2 linked regions of the Homo sapiens genome follow. The protein of the gene in region 2 interacts with the protein of the main gene of each other region in a biochemical or structural test. Each region holds a gene or a part of one and is shown on either strand. Other genes may lie near its edges.

What was found.
Region 1: the proteins of CTSH (region 2) and CSTB form a complex in vitro, tested with the Homo sapiens proteins (one study listed by BioGRID).

The regions. Positions count from the first base shown.
Region 1 is NC_000021.9:43,771,752-43,782,651, forward strand, and holds CSTB (cystatin-B), read right to left. Parts: upstream 4,558-10,900; 5' UTR 4,519-4,557; coding exon 4,453-4,518; intron 3,009-4,452; coding exon 2,907-3,008; intron 2,580-2,906; coding exon 2,451-2,579; 3' UTR 2,199-2,450; downstream 1-2,198. UniProt on the Homo sapiens protein: This is an intracellular thiol proteinase inhibitor. Tightly binding reversible inhibitor of cathepsins L, H and B.
Region 2 is NC_000015.10:78,939,878-78,950,555, forward strand, and holds the start of CTSH (pro-cathepsin H isoform a preproprotein), read right to left. Parts: upstream 5,170-10,678; 5' UTR 5,105-5,169; coding exon 5,014-5,104; exon of another isoform or gene 4,901-5,013; intron 1-4,900. UniProt on the Homo sapiens protein: Important for the overall degradation of proteins in lysosomes.

The sequences.
Region 1 (10,900 bases), on a different chromosome or scaffold from region 2:
CTTCACATGGTGGCAGGAAGGAGACGTGCCAGCAAAAGCGGGGAAAGCCCCTTATGAAACCATCAGATCTCATGAGGATTCACTCACTATCACGAGAACAGCATGAGGGTAACCACCTCCATGATTCAATGACCTCCCACCAGGTCCCTCCCATGACACGGGATTATGGGAGCTATAATTCAAGATGAAATTTGGGTGGAGACACAGCCACACCATATCAGAGCTCCTAATGCACTCTCAGAGGGCAGGGTTAAACCAGCGGGGGGTTCGGTTAAACCAGCGGGGGGTTCGGTAACAAGGGACTTTTGTCAGCGGGTAGTGAAATTCATCAGATTTCCAAGCTGCTGCTGTTGATGCTCCTAAGGAAGCAGACAGCGTGTGGATGAAATTGACAACTTCATATAAATTATATATATATATAGAGAGAGAGAGAGAAACGGAGTCTTACTCTGTTGCCCAGGCTGGAGTGTAGTGGTGCAATCTCGGCTCACTGCAACCTCCTCTGCCTCCTGGGTTCAAGCTATTCTCTTGCCTCAGCCTCCTGAGTAGCTGGGATTACAGGCACCTGCCTGGCTAGTTTTTTGTATTTTATTTTATTTTTTTCAGTAGGGATGGGGTTTCACCATGTTGGTCAGGCTGGTCCCGGAACTCCTGACCTCAAGTGATCCACCCACCTCAGCCTCCCAAAGTGTTGGGATTACAGGCGTGAGCCTGTAATTTTGATCCCTTTGTCAACTTGTATTTAAACCAGACCACAGCATTAATTACATATTTTATTTTCTGTTTTACACTGATATTTCCTGTTTACACACAAGCTTCTAACCCTAAATCCAGCTTCCCCCAACCCAGGTGCCCCATAGGAGTTCCTGGTCACTGCTCCTGCAGACAACCGCTCCCTTCCTGTTGGGGATGGCTCTCCCGCTGCGTGGTCCCCTAAACAGCCCCTCCCCCACCTGCCTTCCGCTGGAAATTCTCAAGTGGGAAATACAACGGGTTTTCCTTTCAATGCAAAACTGCTTGATTCTGTTTTGCATGTTATAAAAGCTTAGTCTCAGAGTTCATGTTAAGAGTGTAGAATACACACAGTCCATGATTCAGTTTTCTTTTTGGTTTTTTTTTGAGATAGGATCTCACTCTGTCACCCACCCAGGCTGGAGTGCAGAGGTACGATCTCGGCTCACTGCACCCACCACCTCCCGAGTCCAAGTGATCCTCCCGTCTCAGCCTCCCAAGTAGCTGGGATTACAGGCGCCTGCCACAACGCCCAGCTAATTTTTTTATTATTAGTAGAGACAGGGTTTCACCATGTGGGTCAGGCTGGCCTAGAACTCCTGACCTCAGAGTGATCCACCCACCTTGGCCTCCCAAAGTGTTGGGATTCTAGGTGTGAGCCACCGCGCCCGGCCTGATTCAGAATTTCCTAACATCACTTTCAAAGCTCTGTGGACTCACTGGTAGATCCCTCCTTAGTCTTCACAGATCCCCCACGATCTGGACAGCCTGAACCCTGCAGCTGCAGTTCTGGCATACGCTGCCGGACGCCTCGGAGGCAAAGCGCAGCTCAGGACACCCTCAGGAACACGTTCACATCATGACCCCGGTGCACAGAGACTTTCACCCCCAGTCTTAGCTCTTATCATGTATGATGCTCCCTCTTCTGTCCTATTTAACATAGAATCACAGTTGGGAAGGCACCGGACCAATTCCATGAATGGGAAGTAATCCCTGTTGAAAACTAGAAGGTGTTTTTAAAAACAGCCACGCTCTCCTAAGATACCTCCCTTTAGAAGCCCACGTGGCTCCATGGGAAGCCTCCCGCACCACAGGGCACTCAGTGAGGCTGCAGGCTATTCTGCACGTGCACGACACTGTGTGGCTGCCTCTCCGTACCAGAGCATAAAGTGCGTGAATGTATCTGAGATCTGGAGCCAGTTATGCTCTGGAATTGGATTTACTCACACTCTTTTATTTTATGGGAGAAACTGAAGCTTGGGGCCAGGACCTAAGAGTCAAAGCACCAACATGTAAAGAGTGGTGGTTAGGAACGCGGGCCGGAGTGGGCAGGTGTGAATCCTGGGTCCACCACCTGCTTGCTGTGTGAGCCAGGCAGTCTCTCCGCCCTCCATGCCCCCGAGGGGAAGGACCTGCCCGGGGTGGTTCAGACGAAGAAAAAAGTCTAAAACAAAGGAGGCAATCTGTAAGGATTTTAAAAATATATCTATTTTGAAAATATTCTGAAAGTAATTAAGATCACCTATTGGGAAGGAAAGAAATCAACACAATGAAATTTAGGAAGAGAAATGCAAAAGCAGCTGCAGAATCCTGCCCCTTCCACCCCAAGGGGCACAGCCCGGAGATGAAGCTTATTTTAGGATCACAAGTGCACGCTCTGGTAGACGGAGGATGACTTTGTCAGTCTTCTGGCTGAAGGGCCTTGTCCAAAGTCAGGATCAGAAATAGGTCAGCTCATCATGCTTGGCTTTGTTGGTCTGGTAGTTAGATAAGGTCAAGGGCTTGTTTTCATGAGGGAGAGATTGGAACACTCGCAGGTGTACGAAGTCCTCGTCGCCGACGTGCACCTGGGAAGAGAGCGGAGTGAGCGAAGCCTCTGATCCCAAGTCACCTTGCTGCGCCCCTCCAGGTCATTAGCAGCCAGCTGAAGACAATCTTGTCTTCTCCTGCATGTGCAGGGGATGCCTCACATCCCACACTTGTTTCCTTGGGGTTCTTAGCTCCCCAGAAGCCCTAGTCCTCCTGAAAGGCCGATGGACACACACAGTAGGATGCTTATCTCAGGGGGCAGCCACAGGGCGCCCCAGCACCTAAGACCACACAGCCCGGGCCTGCACAGGCGGTTTCCTACCAGCACCCGTTCGGGGCAGGCCCTCCTGAGGCCCACACTCTACCTTGATGAAGTAGTTTGTCCCCGCGACCACCTGGCTCTTGAATGACACGGCCTTAAACACAGGGAACTTCTTGTTTTCTTTCTCTTCAAGCTGGGACCTCACCTAGACAGAAGGGACAGAATGAGGATGTCTCAGTGGCTTCTTGGATTCCCTCCTGCTAGAGTAACTTGCACGCATGTGAGCACACACACGATTCTGACACTGGCTCTTCACACAATTGTCTCTTACAACTGAAGGGACATTTAAACTGTCAGCCTAATAATAAAGTAGAAAAAAACAGTTCCAGCTGGGTACGGTGGCTCAAGGATGTAATCCCAGAACTTTGGGAGGCTGAGGTGGGCGGATCACTTGAGGTCAGGAGTTTGAGACCAGCCTAGCCAAATGGCAAAACCCCGTTTCTACTAAAAATACAAAAATTAGCTGGGCGTGGTGGCGAGCACCTGCAATCCCAGCTACTCGGGAGGCTAAGGCAGGAGAATCCCTTGAACCTGGGAAGCGGAGGTTGCAGTGGGCCGAGATTGTGCCACTGCACTCCACCCTGGGCAAGAGTGAGACTGAGTCTCAAAAACAAAAAAAAAAAACACAGGCCTCAGCATCGCCTGGACCTGTTCTTGCTTGGGGCATCCCGTCGGTCACCAACCATGACAGCGAGGCGGGCCTGGCCTGTGCTCCACCGGAGGGGGCTTCTTGCACAGATGACCTGCTCATTTCAGCCCCTCCAGAATCTTCTGGCAGGCGCAGAGCAACAGGACGTCCATTTTACAGACGAGGAAACCGAGACACAGGGAAGGTTGCCATCTGCAACCCAGCCCGGTTTTTATCTTGTTTTTCTGTGTTTTAACTTTTTATTTAGACTTACAGTTTGAAACAGTGCTAGAATCGGAAGCATGTAAAGAAACCTGTGGACCTTTTATGCAGATACACTTAAGTTTTTAACCCATGTGCCTTATCACTGGGGACCTCTTGCACTCTCTCTCATGATTTTTTTCCCGAACTAGATGAGGATATTGACAAAGATTCTTGCTTGGCCAAACTGTAGTCGGGCTCCTGAAGCGCCTAGGCCACCTGCGCACTTCCTTGTAAAATCCACTTTTAGCAAGAAGCCTGGCTAAGTCAGTTTAGCCAGACCCTTCCCACCCGCTTGCTATCGGATCACCGTGGAGATCGGAGCCGGCTGCTCACCTGCGCCATCGCCGGCGACGCCCGATCACCCTGCCTGCCTGAAACCAGAAGCGCCTCATCCCTGGGGTTTCCTCTCAGAGACTGTCCATGCAGGGACCGCACCCTGCTCCGGGCTATCAATTCCCACTCGCCCTTGCTGTATTCAGCGGAGCCCAATGTCTCCCCAGCGGCGCCCCAGGCGCGGCCCCCCGCTGCTCACTCGCGCGCAGCGCCCGAGCGGAGGGAGGCCTCTCACGGCCACAGCCCGGGCCAGCCCAGGGGTGCGCAGCGGGGCCAAAGCGGCTTCTTTCGCTCCAGGAGCCGCGGCCGCGCCCTGAGGCTAAGGCAGGACTCCGGGCCGGCCCCGTCCCCGCGGCCCACCCACCTGGTCGGCGATGTGCTGGGTCTCGGCGGTGGCCGGCTGCGTGGCGGAGGGCGCCCCGCACATCATCTTGGCGGCGACGGAGGGAATCTGGCGAGGGGACTCGGCGAGGGGACGCGGCGGCTCCTCAGCCCAAGTAGGCGCTGGGGTCACGTGACGCGCGGGCGGAACCAAGGGGCGGGGAGGAGGCACTTTGGCTTCGGAGTCCCCTGCGGGGTCGCGGTGGCCCCGCAAGAAGGGACGCGCGGGGCGGGGCGCGGGGCGGGGCGCGGGGCGGGGAACCTGGCCACCACTCGCCGCAGGCTGGGTCTCCGCGCCCAGCGCTGGTGTCGGGAGGGAGCGCCCCCCTCCCGGGGCTGGTATCGTCTTTCCGGGCGCCGAGTCACACGGACCGGGGCGGGGGCGCGGCCGGGTGTCGCCGGTGGGTTGGGCGCGCAGGGTGGGACGATAGGGAAGGGGCAGTCGGAGTAGGCGCAATCCTGCAGGGTGGCGGGGTCCGGGCCGCGCACGAGGGAGGGCGGGGCGCAGCGCTGCAGGGGTCAGGGGTCAGGGGTCCCGGCCCCGCGGGAGCAGGTGTGCGGGCTGCAGTGGACATCACCGCTTGTGACCGAGAACACTGAAGGCTGAAGGGGGTGGACAGAGGGGCCCAGGGAGGGGGAGACGGCGCCCACGCGCTCCAGGCTGGGTGGGGGCAGGGGGTAGATCAGAGGGATGAGAAGAAGGCAGGGTTCTCTGGTGGAATTTGCGTTTTAGGATTTCTTTTCTTTCTTTCCTTTTCTTTTCTTTTTTTTTTTTTTTTTTTTTTTTTGAGACGGAGTCTCGCTCTGTCTCCCAGGCTGGAGTGCAGTGGCGCGATCTCGGCTTACTGCAGGCTCCGCCTCCCGGGTTCACGCCATTCTCCTGCCTCAGCCTCCCGAGTAGCTGGGACTACAGGCGCCCGCCACCACACCTGGCTAATTTTTGTATTTTTAGTAGAGACGGGGTTTCACTGTGTTAGCCAGGATGGTCTCGATCTCCTGACCTTGTGATCCACCCGCCTTGGCCTCCCAAAGTGCTGGGATTACAGGTGTGAGCCACTGCGCCCGGCCTTTTTTTTTTTTTTTTTGAGACGGAGTCTGGATCTGTCGCCTAGGCTGGAGTGCAGTGGCGCAATCTCGGCTCACTGCAAGCTCCGCCTCCGGGGTTCACACCATTCTCCTGCCTCGGCCTCCCGAGTAGCTGGGACTACAGGCGCGCGCCTTCATGCGCAGCTAATTTTTGTGTTTTTAGTAGAGACGGGGTTTCACCATATTGGCCAGGCTGGTCTCGAACTCCTGACCTCGTGATCCACCTGCCTCGGGCTCCCAAAGTGCTGGAATTACAGGCGTGAGCCACCGTACCTGACCTCTTTTCTTTCTTTCTTTTTTTTTTTTTTGACAGAGTCTTGCTCTGTTGGCCAGGCTGGGGTGCAGTGGCCTGATCACAACTCATTGCAGCCTGGACCTCCTGGGCTCAAGCGATCTTCCCACCTCAGCTGCTATAGTAGCTGGGACCACAGGCCCACCCTACCACACACATATATAGAGACAGAGAGTTTCACCATGTTACCCAGGCTGGTCTGGAACTTCTGAGCGATCTGTCCACCTCGGCCTCCCAAAGTGCTGGGATTATTGGCATAAACCACTGCACCCCTAATTTTTTTAAAAAGTGTTTTTGTAGAGATGGAGTCTCACTATATTGCCCAGGCTGGTCTTGAACTCCTAGGCTAAAATCGATCCATCCCCCAAAGTGCTGGGATGACAGGCTTGAGCCACCACACAGTCCCTTTGGTTTAGGGTTTCTGTTAGACTGGACCACCTGCGGAAGGGAAGGGTCGCTTGCCTTATTTGGGGTGGGGGTGGGGCCTGTGCTAGGCACCTGTTGGTGTGATTGACTCCTCAAAATGACCCAGAGCCCCCACCCAAGGGCTGTCCCTCAGGGGGACTGGTCCGCTCCTGCATGCAAGGCCCCAGCTGGAGCGGCCCATGAATGGGTTGTGGGGTCCTTTCTCTTACCTGCCAGGGCACAGCCTGGTCTGTCACTTCAGGGAAGGGCCCAAAGGGGTGGGCAGTCAGGTGTGGTTGAAGCCTGGGGGGAGCGGGGCAGAGCCCCCCATCATTGTTGAATGAGTGAAGGCAGAGTTGACCCCACGAAAATGGAAAACTCTTCTATGTGGAAAGCAAAGCATCAGGGGAAAACATAGTCAAGAAGAGAAAGGGATGTTCCCGCTGCTTGTACGGTTCCTGCAGCTCTGTTGGGCTTGTGCCGTGGAAGGTGTTGGCCTTGAGGCCTTTGTTCCTGAGGTGCTTCCTGGAGTCGGATCCTCACTCTCCTTGCTGGAGCTGGTCCCAGGTGCCTCCGTTTTACAAATAGGAGGATAACAGCTGTGGAAATAAAGCCCACGCAAATGAGAACAAAAGACGATTTATTCAGGACTTGCTGTACAAGGGAGTCGCCGTCCTCTCTTGTGTTGACCGAGATTCCTCAGCAGGCGGGGGCAGAGCCGGGGAAAAGCCTGGAATGGGAAGGGGAGGCTCAGGTGCACCTGAGGGAGGCTGTGGCCTGGGGAGACGGAAGAGGGGCTCACTAGGAGTGTGACCGTGACAGGTCCGTTGCCTAGGGTGCAGGAAGTCAGCACACTGCCACCCAGGGTTTGCAGCAGACAGTTTGAACCGCAAGGTTGTAACTGGGAGGAGACCTCAAATCCATCTCCCTGAGGAGTTTGGGGCTGGGAACTTTCAGGGGTTTGGAGTGGGCTGAGGGCGGGGGCTGCTGACCGGTGGAGAAGTGCAGGGTGAAGCAGGGTGGAGTCATGGGGTGGGGTTGAAGATGCTGTATTCTCATGCTGGTTCACTTCCTCTGTGGGGCTCTTCAAACTGGTTGGCCTGGAATTAAGGATCTGAAACGTCTTAAGGAATTCTTAAACAAAAGCCTCATGATTCTGAAGTCAGAGATTCCGTCCATAGGAACAGTAGGGGTGCAGATAGTCACTAGCGCTACGTGACTTTCAGTTAGAAGGAAGTGGGTTAAAGTGTAGCCTGACAAATGCTGAGTTATCCTTCTCTTCCTCCCTCCCCCCTCCCTCCCTCCCTCTCTCTCTCTCTTTTTCTCTCTCTCTGTCTCTTTCTCTCTTTCTTTCTTCAGAGTCTCGCTCTGTCATCCAGACTGGATGGAGTGCAGTGCCATGATCTTGGCTCACTGCTGCAACCACTGCCTCCCGGGTTCAAGCGATTCTCCTGCCTCAGCCTCCCGATTAGCTGGGATTACAGGTGCGTGCCACCAAGCCCAGCTAATTTTTGTATAGAGACGGGGTTTCACCATGTTAGCCAGGCTGGTCTTGAACTCCTGACCTCAGGTGATCCACCTGCCTCGGCCTCCCAAAGTGTTGGGATTACAGGCATGAGCCACCACACCCGGCCTGTAACTCTATTTCTGCTGAATGCTTAGTTATAATAAATATATAATAAATATAATATATAATATATAATAAATGTACAGAACCTGGGCAGAAAGCTTCTGGCTAGCCGTGAAAGTTGAGGTTTGGCCTCTGGACAGTCGCTGTGGCTCAGAGTTCTCTTCCCATATTTGGTCTGGCTGTTTTCTGTTTGTGTGTTCATTGTCTCGCAATGTCAAAGCTGCCTTCGTGCTGCAGGTGTGGGTGCAAGCAGATGTTTTCAAACCATCTTGGAGGGCAGGTGCTGGAGCCCAGCTGCCTGAGTGTGGACCCAGCCCTTCTTCGCACCTGCTGTGTGGTGAAGGACTAATTGCTGAAACTCTCTGTGCCTCTCTCTGTGGGGATAATGCTAATAACCAATCTCAAATTTTTTTTTAAAGGACTAAGTGAATTAGTAATTAAGTACAAAAAGCTTGGGACAGTGTCTGAGCTCCAGGGTGAGTTGTCAGTATTGTTATTATTGGTATGCTAATCAAAGCCAACCTAGAATTTGTATTACTTTTCCAATCAAAAGCCCTGGAATTTTTTATTTTATTTATTTATTTTTTTGAGACATGGTCTGATTCTGTTGCCCACACTGGAGTTCGGTGGCACGATCACAGCTCACTGCAGCCTGACCTCCCAGGCTCAAGCAATCTTCCCACCTCAGCCTCCTGAGTAGCTGGGGCCACAGGTGTGCACCACCATGCCTGGCTAATTTTTTTCATTTTTTGTAGAGCTGGAAGTCTCACTATGTTGCCCAGGCTAATCTTGAAATCCTGGGCCCAAGTGATCCTCCCACCTCTGAAACCACCTTTGCAAAAATTGTATCCATGAGAAAATGGTGGCAGTGGGAGAGATCTGAACCAGCTGACCCGGCTCTGGCCTTTAGCTTTTAAGCTGCCTTGATTATTCCTGGGTTTAGGCTGAGCTAACTTTGGCAGACATTTAGTTTACAGTTTAGATGATACTGGCCCTTCCCCAAAACTCAACCACCTTTGCAAAGCTCATGAGAGACTAGGCTAGGAGAAGGAGAGGAGCCTGGGTTCAGCTAAGGTGTAGACAAACAATTGCCAGCCATTATTCTGGAGGTCACAGGACAGCAACCTCCCCAGTTAGTCCTGCAGTTAATGTCGCTATTGTAGACTGGCCTTTTGAGATACTTTTGCAGGTTTTGGGCATGTCTGACACCCATGGCTCTACCTGGACCCACTGACCATGGCTCCTGTGGCCCCTCCCAGAAGCAACTCAGTGCAAAAGGACATCTTCCCATGATGTCATCTCCGACCCACTCGGTCAGCAGCAAGCACCCATTGCCCAGCCACACCAACCCCTTCCCCCAAACCACTTTTGAAAAACCCTAACCCACAGGCCTGCAATGAGGTTGATTTGAATAATTACTCCATCTCCCTTGTGGCATGGCCAGGCCAGCCTCACATCAATTCACTTTTTTTTTTTTTGAGACAGAGTCTCCCTCTGTCGCCCAGGCTGGAGTGCAGTGGTGCAATCTTGGCTCACTGCAACCTCTGCCTCCCGGGTTCAAGCGATTCTCCTGCCTCAGCCTCCCAAGTAAGTGTGATTATAGGCATGCATCCCCATGCCTGGCTAATTTTTGTATTTTTAGTAGAGACGAGGTTTCACCATGTTGGCCAGGCTGGTCTCAAAACTCCTGACCTCAGGTGATTCACCCCCCTTGGCTTCCCAAAGTGCTGGGATTATAGGTGTGAGCCACCGTGCCTGACAATTAACTTTCTTTTCTTCAGTGCCGTGGCCTTTGTACAGCAGGCAGGAAGAACCTGTTGGGCGGTCCCACCTTGGCCTCCCAAAGTGCTGGGATTACAGGCATGAGCCATCACGCCCAACCATGCTGACTTTTACCTCCCATTCTTTGATGCCAGAGTTTTTCATTTACTGAAGGCAAGGGGACAAGACCAAATACCTTGTCTCCCCACTTAGAGAATGAGAAAGAAAAAAATTATGAATATTTCTTATCTGAGGAAAATGAACCCTTTTTTTTTTTGAGATGGAGTCTCGCTCTTGTCACCAGGCTGGAGTGCAGTGGTGCGATCTTGGCTCACTGCAAGCTCCTCCTCCTGGGTTGACACCATTCTTCTGCTTCAGCCTCCCAAGTAGCTGAGACTACAGGCACCCGCCACCATGCCCGGCTAATTTTTTTTGTATTTTTAGTAGAGACAGGGTTTCACCATGTTGGCCAGAATGGTCTCGATCTCCTGACCTCGGGATCTGCCTGCCTTGGCCTCCCAAAGTGCTGGGATTACAGGAGTGAGCCACCAGGCCCGGCTGAAAGCGAACCCTTTTAAGTTATCAGGCCCAGAGAGAAATTAAAATGAGACAGTAATCACATGCTGTTTCTCCTAGAGCTGTGTCACCATCTCTGGAGACTGCTTCCTCTCACCACAAGTAGCTGTAAGTGAACCTAAGGATGCTGCACACAGGACACCGTAATCCCATACAATGTATAGCCAATCACTAATCAATATTATTTCTGTAAACCAATGAGAATTCCTGATAGACAATTTTGTATCAGCCTGCTCCTTGTCCCCCTTTTGTCTTTAAAAACCTGCTTGTCGGCTGGGCGTGATGGCTCACACCTACAATCCCAGCAGTTTGGGAGGCCAAAGCAGGTGGATCACGTTAGGTCAGGAGTTCGAGACCAGCCTGGCCAACATGATGGAACCCCGTCTCTATTAAAAATGCAAAAAAATTAGCTGAGCTTGGTGTCTGGCACCTGTAATCCCAGCTATCTGGGAGGCTGAGGCAGGAGAATCACTTGAACCTGGGATGCTGAGGTTGCAGCGAGCCGAGATTGTGCCACTGCACTCCAGCCTGGGCAACAGGAGTGAAACTCCGTCTAAAACAAACAAACAAACAAACAAACAAACAAAACCCTGCTGTCACGAAGGTCAAAAGCAGCTCTCACCAAGGCAATGTGGAAGTGTGTCTTGCTGTCCTCAACTTTAGCCCACGCACAGTCTCTAC
Region 2 (10,678 bases):
GTCTCAAAAACAACAACAACAAAAAACAAACCTATCTATTCCAAGGGCAAGCACTGTTTTTCCTTATGGGGACAGGTAGTAAATATTTCAGGCTTTGCCATCTATATGGTTTCTGCCACAACTACTCAACTCTGCCCCTGCGGCTCAGAGACAGCCACAGAGACTGTGAACATTAATGGGTAGGACTGCGTTCCCGCAAGACTTCACAAAAACGAAACCTCACATGTACCCCCAAATATGTACAGATATTATCAAAAACATAATAAAACAAACAAGACAAAATATTTTACAAAAGCAGGCCAGCCATTTGTTTTTGGATTCCTGCCGTATTTCCCCATGTATGTTCTTATCTAAACATTTCATTTTAAATTTGAATACCTCCAAAGACATATTCCAACTTATAAATATTGAGATTTAAAAATAACACCTGGCAGTGTGGCCCAAGCCTATAATCTCAGTACTTTGGGAGGCTGACACAGGCGAATCCCTTGAGCCTAGGAGTTTGGGACCAGTCTGGGCAACAAAGTGAGACCTCGTCTCTACAAAAAAATAAAAAAAATTAGACGGGAGAATCACTTGAGCCTGGGAGGTTGAGGCTGCAATGAGCTATGATAGCGCCACTGCATTCCTGCCTGGGTGACAGGAGTGAGACCTTGTCTCAAAAAAAAAAAAAAAATCTCTAAAAATAAGATTGTTATATCATTCTTTTAAAGCTAGCCAGTGGAATCTAAATACCATGATGATTTGATATCCACCATCAGTAACATGAACAAACTTTTCTATAAGAGTCAGGTATTTAGGCGGGGTGTGGTGGCTCACGCCTGTAATCCCAGCACTTTGGGAGGCCAAGGTGGGCAGATCACCTGAGGTCAGGAGCTCATGACCAACTTGGCCAACATGGCAAAACCCCAGCTCCACTAAAAATACAAAAATTAGCTGGGCATGGTGGCAGGCGCCTGTAATCCCAGCTACTCAGGAGGCTGAGGCAGGAGGATCGCTTGAACCTGAGAGGCGGAGGCTGCTGTGAGCCGAGATTGTGCCACTGCACCCCAGCCTGGGTGACAAGAGCGAAACTCCATCTCAAATAAAGAAAACAAAACAAAAAAGAGTCAGATATTATACAGAGTTTCTTTTTCTTGTTGAACACCTATCTCCATCCCCACCTGGCAGAATTTTATCCTAAGGGAACATACATTTTTATGCTTGATCACCTTCACATTCTTTTCTGCAACAACAACAAAAAGTTTAAATTTAAATTATTTATTTTGGCTGGGCGCCGTGGCTCATGCCTGTAATCCCAGCACTTTGGGAGGCTGAGGCAGGTGGATCATGAGGTCAGGAGTTTGAGACCAGCCTGGCCAACATGGTGAAACCTCATCTCTACTAAAAATACAAAAATAAGCCAGACGTGGTGGCATGCACCTGTAGTCCCAGCTACTTGGGAGGCTGAGGCAGAAGAATTGCTTGAACCTGGGAGGCAGAGGTTGCAGTAGCCAAGATCGTGCCACTGCACTCCAGCCTGGGCGACAAAGCGAGACTCTGTCTAAAAAAAAAAAAAAAAAAAAAAAAAAAATTAAATGTTTTTACTACCTGTGACCCATACATCTGTGAATATTATAAAAATTTATTCTGGAGCTGGGCGCGGTGGCTCATGCCTGTAATCCCAGCACTTTGAGAGGCTGAGACGGGCGGATCACGAGTTCAGAAGATCGAGACCATCCTGGCTAACACGGTGAAACCCCAACTCTACTAAAAATACAAAAAACAAATTAGCCGGGCGTGGTGGCGGGCGCCTGCAGTCCCAGCTACTCAGGAGGCTGAGGCAGGAGAATGGCGTGAACCCGGGAGGCGGGGCTTGCAGTGAGCCGAGATCACGCCACTGCACTCCAGCCTGGGCGACAGAATGAGACTCCGTCTCAAAAAAAAAAAAAAAAATTTATTCTGGATTGAGTAATCATAATTATTATTAGTGTCCCAACTGATTAAAACATTTCAAATGTATTATACATTATGAAAAGTAATTGTTAAACATCAAAAGTAAAATTGTATCAGAAATGCATCTCTTAATGTGATAAACAGTACTCTACTGCCCATCCCCCGCAATGGATTTATATTTTCATGAGTGAATATTGTTTGGTTGAGAAAAGGTTCAGCATTAATTCTGGTCTTATTTTTGTTTCTTATAGGTCAAAGGGCTGGGAAACCCTGCTCAAATAAGCAGCTGGGAATGGAGGCAGTTTTTAAGAGCAATGCCACTTAATTCTTCGCACTCCTTTCTGTGCATCCAATCCCATGGTGCTCTATCACTCAGCCCTCCCTCCCTCCCTTTCTTTCCTTCTTTTTTTTTTTTTTTTTTGAGAAGGAGGCTGGCTCTGTTGCCCAGGCTGGAGGGCAGTGGCACGATATCAGCTCACTGCAACCTCCACCTCCCTGGTTCAAGCAATTCTATCTCAGCCTCCCAAGTAGCTGGGATTACAGGTGCCCACCACCACGCCCGGCTAATTTTTATATTTTTAGTAGAGATGGGGTTTCACCATGTTAGCCAATCTGGTCTGAAACTTCTGACCTCAGGTGATCCACCCACCTTGGCCTACCAAAGTGCTGGGATCACAGGCGTGAGCCCCCACGCCTGGCCTCACTCAACATTATTTTTAAGACCTCATCAGTTGATATCCCCATGAAGTCCTCTCCTCTTCAATTCAGTTTCCTTGAGGAATTGAGAATGCCAGATATGAACGATTTATTACCGTTTTGTCTTTTTGTTTGCTGTCCCTATTGTTTTTATACCCATGGGTTCAGGTTCAGATTGAATGAGAGGAAAGAGGTTCCCCCTTGCCTTCAGGGGCTCTCTCCCAGTTTTAGCAAAGAGGACACTTGGAAATAAAAGGTCTGTAAATGGATTTCCAGAACACTCTCTGCCGGCATCACTTGAAATATCTTCCTGTTTCCCCAAGGATCCATACCTCCAGTGTGAAGATCACTACCACACAGCATTTAGATCTCCGTTTTTGGGTCTCGAACCTGTTCCAGAGACCAATCTATGGCCGTTTTCCCTGGGGAAAATGCACATTTCCTCAACATGGCTCCCTTTAGGGTTTCAGGGGATTCCAGATCTTGATTAAGGGCCCTGCTGCAGCTGAGGGCTTTAGAGGAAGACAGACCTCAACTCAGGACAAGAGTTGGAGGCAGGGTTTGAGTTTAGGACAATTGACTACCAGTTTGCCTCTGGAGAGATTATTCTGGGGCCAGAATAATCTGCTGGTGAACCGTGCCTTACCCTAAAATAGATCCATTCCAATCTAGTCAGGACTTTAAAAGTGCCATAATACCTTGCCTGGATTTACAGCAGGTTTCAGGAAAGTACAGTATTCCCCTGTTTGTTTGTTTGTTTGTTTTAGATGGAGTCTTACTCTGTCACCCAGGCTGGAGTGATCGCCACCTCTCAGTTTCAAGCGATTCTCCTGCCCCAGCCTCCTGAGTACCTGGGATTACAGGCACCTGGCTACCACACCCAGCTAATTTTTGTATTTTTAGTAGAGACAGGGTTTCACCATGTTGGCCAGGCTGCTCTCGAACTCCTGACCTAAAGTGATCCGACTGCCTCGGTCTCCCAAATTGCTGAGATTACAGGTGTGAGCCACCGCAGCCGGTCCCTGACTCCTGTTTTAGTACAGCTCCTGGGCTACAAACGGTTTCTTACAATTTTAAATGGTTAGAAGAAACATATTTCGTAGCACCCAAAAATCCCTTGAAACTGAAATTTCAGTGGCCATAAAAATCATTTATTAGAACCCAGTTACACTGACTCACTTACATACAATCTATGGTTGCTATCACACTACCATGGCAGAGTTAGTAGTTGCTACAGAGACCACCATAAAGCCTAAGTTATTTACCGTCTGGTCTTTCACAGAAAAAGTTTGCCAAGCCCTGCTCTGGAATTCAGACAGCCTCTCAGCGCCAGCCTTCTCCAGGCAGCCCTCGCTTGCGGCAGCTAGGTTTTCCTTAGGCGGGAACTGACCTGGAGCTGGGCGCCCACTGAGGTTTGCAAGGCTGGGGAGCTTTTTAAATAAATAGGTGGGAAGGAATGAGGCAACCCTCTGGCCCAGATTCAGCCTCAGTGATCTCTGTCCCATCCCCTGAGCCTCTAGCTGGGGGAAAGCCCTGTCCCGTTCCTCCAGAGCTCAGGGCACCCCCCCTCCCTAGGTTCTTGGCTCCTTGGGTTGTTTCTTGGCTACTTTTCTCGGTGAAGGGGGCAGGTGGTCTTTAAGTTCAGAGCCTGTGGGCTGAGGCTGGGACCAGGGACAGTAGGAAAGGAGGGAGGCAGTAGGGAAGAGCAGGCTCCTTGCCTTCAGCCAGGGGAGGTGCCTGAGCCCGGGCAGTAGACAGGATGCAAGGGCAGCACGAAGCTGGACCAGTCGCAGCCAATCTGGCCAACAAGAGGAGTCCTGGGGCTCCACCTGACGCCATGGGCCCTGGGGTGCTGTTAAAAGCGCTGTTGGTCTGAGTGCTTTCCCTGGTGCCGTTGCACAGGGATTCACTGTTCCAAACAGCCCGTCCAACCTACTCTACAGATGGGACTCCCAAGACACTACGGGGATCCCCTGTGTGCCAAGTCCCGGGGGAAGCTGCTAGAGAAGGCTGGGACGTCCTTGCTCACCTCTGGCAGGGACAGATCAGAGTCCTCTGTGTGACACTCTGTGTCCCCAGTTGAGGAAGGCGGAAGGAGCTGCGGGCTCCTTTGGTATTCTAGGCTGGAGAGCCACCTGGCTAGGTGGGACCCTGGACACTCAGCCCATCTGCTCCTCTGGTCCTACAAGCCGCCCACCCTCCGAGAACCCCCGCCTATAATGCAGTTTACCCCTCCCCGTGCCAGCACGCAGAGTTCCTGGCCTCTCACCGGGGAAAGCTCTGCCCCGTTCCTCCGGAGCCCAGTGCGCCCCTGGCCAAGTTCTCCCAGCGTCCACTCTAGGGCCTGCTAGCACCCTCTCGGGCGGCGCGCCCTCTGCGTACCTAAGGAGTTCACGCACAGTTCGGCGGCACCGCAGACGGGGACTCCCAGGAGCCAGGCCCCGGCGCAGAGCAGCGGCAGCGTGGCCCACATCGCAGCGCTGGCGGCTTGGCTCTTGCGCTCAGGGTCCGCGGAGGTGGCGGCCCAGAGCGTCAACTGGGAGCGCGGGGGGGGAGCGGCACGAGCGTGGAGGAGCGGCGGGAGCGCGAAGGGGCGGAGCGAGCGCGGGGCGGAGCGAGCGCGGGGCGGGGTGGGCGGTACTCCCCCGAGGCCGGGCTCGCGGGAGGGGGCGGCGCCGACTAACTCGCCAGCTCTAGTTCACCTGTCGGCCGGCCGCGTCGCTCCCTTATCTCCTCTGGGAGGAAGGGCTTATCTGGGTATCAGGCCTGGCTGAGTCCTGGATCTGCCTGGACTGGCTGGCACCGCGCGGGGAGGTCTCAGCCTGGCCTCTCCCTCTCCCAGCCTGTCGCCATCCCCACGTCCCCCATCTCCCTGCGTGTCCCCACCTCGCACCCCCCCATCTCCCTGCCTATCCCCAACTCGCACCCCTCATGTCCCTTCCTGTCCCCACCTCACACCATGTCCCTGCCTGTCTTCACCTTGCACCCTCCATCTCCCTGCCTGTCCCCACCTCGCTCCCCCTATGTCCCTGCCTGTCTCCACCTCACACCCCCATCTCCCTGAATGTGCCCACCTCCCACCCCCTATGTCCCTGCCTGTCCCCACCTCCCACCCCCATGTCCCTGCCTGTCCCCACCTCGCACCCCCATGTCCCTGCTTATCCCCACCTCGCACCCCCCCATCTCCCTGCCTGTCCCCAACTCACACCCCCCATCTCCCTGCCTGTCCCCACCTCAGACTCCCCATGTCCCTGCCTGTCTCCACCTCACACCCTTATGTCCCTGCCTGTCCCCACCTCGCACGCCCCACGTCCCTGCCTGTCCCCACCTCGCACTCCCCATGTCCCTGCTTGTCCCCACCTCGCACCCCCCATCTCCCTGCCTGTCCCCACCTCACACCCCCCATGTCCCTGCCTGTCTCCACCTCACAGCCTTATGTCCCTTCCTGTCCCCACCTCGCACCCCCCATCTCCCTGCCTATCCCCACCATACCCCTATGTCCCTGCCTGTCCCCACCTCACACCCCCATGTCTCTGCCTGTCCCCACCTCACACCCCCATATCCCTGCCAGTCCCCACCTCACATCCCCCCATCTTCCTGCATTTCCCCACCTCACACCCCTATGTCCCTGCCTGTCCCCGCCTTGCACCTCCCATCTTCCTGCCTGTCCCCACCTCACACCCCCTCATGTCCCTGCGTGTCTCCACCTTGCACCCCCATCTCCCTGCCTGTCCCCACCTCATACCCCCCATGTCCCTGTGTGTCTCCACCTCAGACTTTCCCCCACACTCCCCACGTCTCCCTGCCCTGGTTAACCACATTTCCCTGGCTTCCCTTTTGCTTGGAGTGGACTTACAACTGAAGAAGCTAGACGACCTCCTTGTGAATTGTTTTGCCCCCTCAACAGACATTTTAGTCTTTCTGCTGAGGAAGCTACATTAAGAGCTGTAGGGCCATTCTCTGTAGTTTGCAAAGCTAAAGAAGATGGTATGTAAGGGTCTGGGTGTGAGACAGACAGAAGAACGTGCGTTCCAGGCTGAGGAGGCCGGTGCTGTCACTGCTTTGGGTGAGGAGAGGGTGATTCAGACCAGCCTGTGCCGTAGCCTCAAATGCCCAGTGATGCCCTGTTCTTCACTTACATCATCACCTTGCAAAGTGGCATGTTGTTGACCCCCCATTTTACAGATGAGGAAACTGAGGCCACAAGAGTAGATGGTAACTTTCCCAGTCTGTGCGCAGAGAGTGTCTGAACCCAGCCTTGACCTACTGCAGTGCTCTCTGCTCTGGGCTTGCTCTTTCTCTGTCTCTTCATTTTTAAATTTTTATTTATTTATTTTGAGACAGGGCCTGGCTCTCTTGCCACCCAGGTTGGAGTTCAGTGGCATCATCACAGTTCACTGCAGCCTTGGCCTCCCAGGCTCAGGAGATCCTCCCACATCAGCCTTTTGAGTAGCTGGGACCACAGGCTCGTACCATCACGCCCAGCTAGTTTTTTTGTATTTTTAGTAGAGATGGGGTCTCAAACTCCTGGGCTCAAGTGATCCTCCTGCCTCAGCCTCCCAGAGTGCTAGGATTAGAGATGTGAGCCTCTGTGCCCTTCCCTCTCTTTTTAAAAATGCATCTTTCCAACCTGTGAGTAGAGCCAGATCTGAGCTCTCTCGTGGCCTCCCTCCGACTGGTGTTTCATCCCCTGATGTTCTAGCCCAGACTCTGTGTCTCAGGCACCTGGGGAAGCAGATTCCTGGACTTCTTTCCTGGGATATGACCTACTGGGTCTGGGTAGGGCTCAGAAATCTGCATTTAAAGAGCCTCCCCCACAGTCTCTCTCCTCTCCTGTGGCCAGTGTGGCATGTGGACATGGAATCTCCATGGAACCAGGGTGAGCTCCAGCAGGCACCTTTTTTCAGATAAAGCAGATCTTCCTTAGGTTGTGACTCCATCTCTGTCTGGATGCCCCTCTCTGGGTGTGACCAGTCTCTCTGTGCTTTGAGGCATATGTCTCAGAAAAGACCCTGCTCGGTTACTATTTGGAACAGAAGTCGCTGGCCTTGGGATAAAGGTGTCCTTCTAGGCAGATGTCCTGCCCTTCATGTGTACCTGGAATGCTTCACCCCTCTGCCCATCCCAGCCACTTGGAGGATGTCAGAATTGAAAGCTCTGCATGCTAGACCTCAGGCCCCAGAGCTGCCTCCTGCGCTAGGTCCCTGGTGACCCTCCTTTGTGGATCGTTCCAGCAGGCCAGGGCCCCTGGGTGCTGAGATGTGGAGGGCACTGACCTGGTTAATTGGAGACCAATGTTTGGTTCTAGCCCTACTACAGATTCACTGTGTGACCTAAGCAAATGGTTCCCCCCCGCCTCCCCCCCACCAGCCTCAGTTTCCTCATCTGTAAAATGGAGCAAGTATCCCTGCTTTCCAGGGTAGTTAGATACGGTCATGCAGTTTAAATATAATTATAGGTAAAATACCTGGCCCTGAGCATGGCACCAGAATAGAGACTCCCCCCATGCATGGGCTTTTCTGATGCTCCGTTGTGTGCTTTTTATCCTTTGCTACCTGCACACACTTTTCATGGTGAGTTTGTCTGACCCTCTGGCTCCAGCTGGCTGGAGGGCTTCTCCGTGGTTCCAGTCCTCTACACCTCTACAGAAATGAGGCTGAGGACTGCAGCTGCTGGCACAGTCTTGGCTGGACAGGGCTGGTAGGCAGAACTCGAAAGCTTCCTATTCACTCAAGCACAATCTAGCGACTGCCATGGAGGACTTTGCGGATGGAATCAACGTTTGAATCAGCTGACTTTAAATAGGATTATCCTGGGTTATCCGAGGGGCCCTGTGGAATCATGTGGGCCTTTAGAAGCAGAAGAGCATAGGAGAAGAGTCGGAGAGAGGGGGCAGAAGGAGAGGTTGGAGAAGTCAGAGGGGGGATGAGGCAGGTGGGGTCAGAGAGCGCTGAATCATGAGAAGGACTCTATCTGCCACTGCTGGCTTTGAAGAGGGCCAAAGCCAAGGTACACAGGCAACCTATAGAAGCTGGCCGTAGTGACAGCCAGCAAGGAAACCAGGACCTCAGCCCTTCACCAGCATGGAACTGCATTCTGCCAGCCCTCTGAATGAGCTTGGAAGCAGATTCTCCCCCAGACCCTCCAGGGAACCAACCAAGTCCACATGGACTTCTGACTTACAGAACTTCCGTAGAGTACATTTGTGCTATTATAAGCCTCTAAGTTTGTGGTAATTAGAACACAACAATAGGAAGAAACCAATACACCAGATGAAACACCCAAACTGGCAGGTGCCTCATTGGTCTGAAGGTCTGGTGCATATGGGGGCTGAGAGGCCAAGGGCAAAGAACAGGCCTATCCATGGTCAGAGTCATGACCTCTTGTGGGGATGTGTTGGACCCTGCTCCAAGTGCCTCACACAAATAAACTTTGTGACTCTTCACCTTTTATTTTATTTTTATTTAGTTTTTTTGGAGACAGAGTCTCGCTCTGTCGCCCAGGCTGGAGTGCAATGGCACGATCTCGGCTCACTGCAACCTCCGCCTCCCCAGTTCAAGCAATTCTCCTGCTTCAGCCTCCTAAGTGGCTGGGATTACAGGTGCCCACCACCACGCCCAGCTAATTTTTTGTATCTTAGTGGAGACAGGGTTTCTCCATGGTGCCCAGGCGGGTCTCAAACTCCTGAGCTCCGGCAACCCACCTGCCTCGGCCTCCCAAAGTGCTAGGATTATAGGCCTGAGCCACCGTATCAGCAGAATCTTCACTTCTTAATCCCCATTGTACGGATGGGGTAATTGAGGCACTTACGTACATTGTCTAAGGCCACACAAGTAAGTAAGAGTGGGATTTGAACCCCTGCTATGAACCCCTGGCTACCTGAGTCCAGAGTTCTCCACTAAAGCATTTGCCCCATGGGAACAAGTGATGACGATGAGTCCTGAGGCTTGCCTACCTACCTGAACTTCCAGGTCTAGAGTTCCCAGAAACATCAATAGGAGTCCGCTAACCACAGGTCCTGGAATCTGCAGTCACTGCCTGCATGCAGAATGCCTCCTGCATGAATGTTCTAGTCATTGTTACCTGCCCCACATCCATTTATTCTTTTCCTTAAGCTGAATCTGGGGATAACAAAAAGGATAACACAACTTTATCACCCCCCTCCCCCACCCCCCACAACTGTTAACTACAGGTTTGACTGGTTTTCCAGATCACCTGTTAGAGCCAACATTGTAGCAGACAAGCTGGGCCTTTTGCCACATTCATTTTCTTACCATGGTAATATAATAGCCACCATTCACATGGGTTTTGTTATTTACTGCTCATAACAACCCTGTGAAGGCCCTTATGAGCATACACATACTCAATTTTCAGATGAAGAGATTGAGACTTGGAGAAGTTAAGTAGGCCTGCTGGTAAGAGGTGGGACTCCTTCCACATCCACAGGCTGATTTTATATGGTAGGTCGGTAGGGGATTGGCTCAGTGGTTGGGTGCCTGGCTATGTGTTTGGATGCATGTGTGGATGAATGAATAGAAGAAGGGATGGCTGGATAGACGGCTCTGTCCATGGCAAGATGGACCAACAGCTGTATTGTTGGATGGATGGGTGGAAGGAGGGATGAATGGATGCAGGGATGAGTGACCAAAGTTTGTAGAGTGGAAAAGGTAACGAATACAGTAGGGGTGTAAGTCCGCATCAAGGAGGTTCAGCCACCAAAGGAGCTTCAGCTGCCTTGTAATGTGAATTTGAACTCTTGTTAGTTCTGTTGGCCAGGAGACATCCTGCCTAGCCACCTTGATTACTTCCCTTGGCTGTGGGTCAGAGAATTCCAGCCTGAAAAATGTCCATTGACTGAATGAGAAGGCACTGTTTGTCCCCTGGAAAGCCAGAGAACATGGAGAACACCACCCCTTTGGCCAAACCCTGGAGATGCTGCACCCACAGCCAAGAAAAGTGTGGAGACCTGCAGAAAAGTCCAGAAGCTGGTGTTTCATCACAGCCAGGATCAGGGTGAAGCAGCGAGGTTATGCTGTGCAAGTCCAAA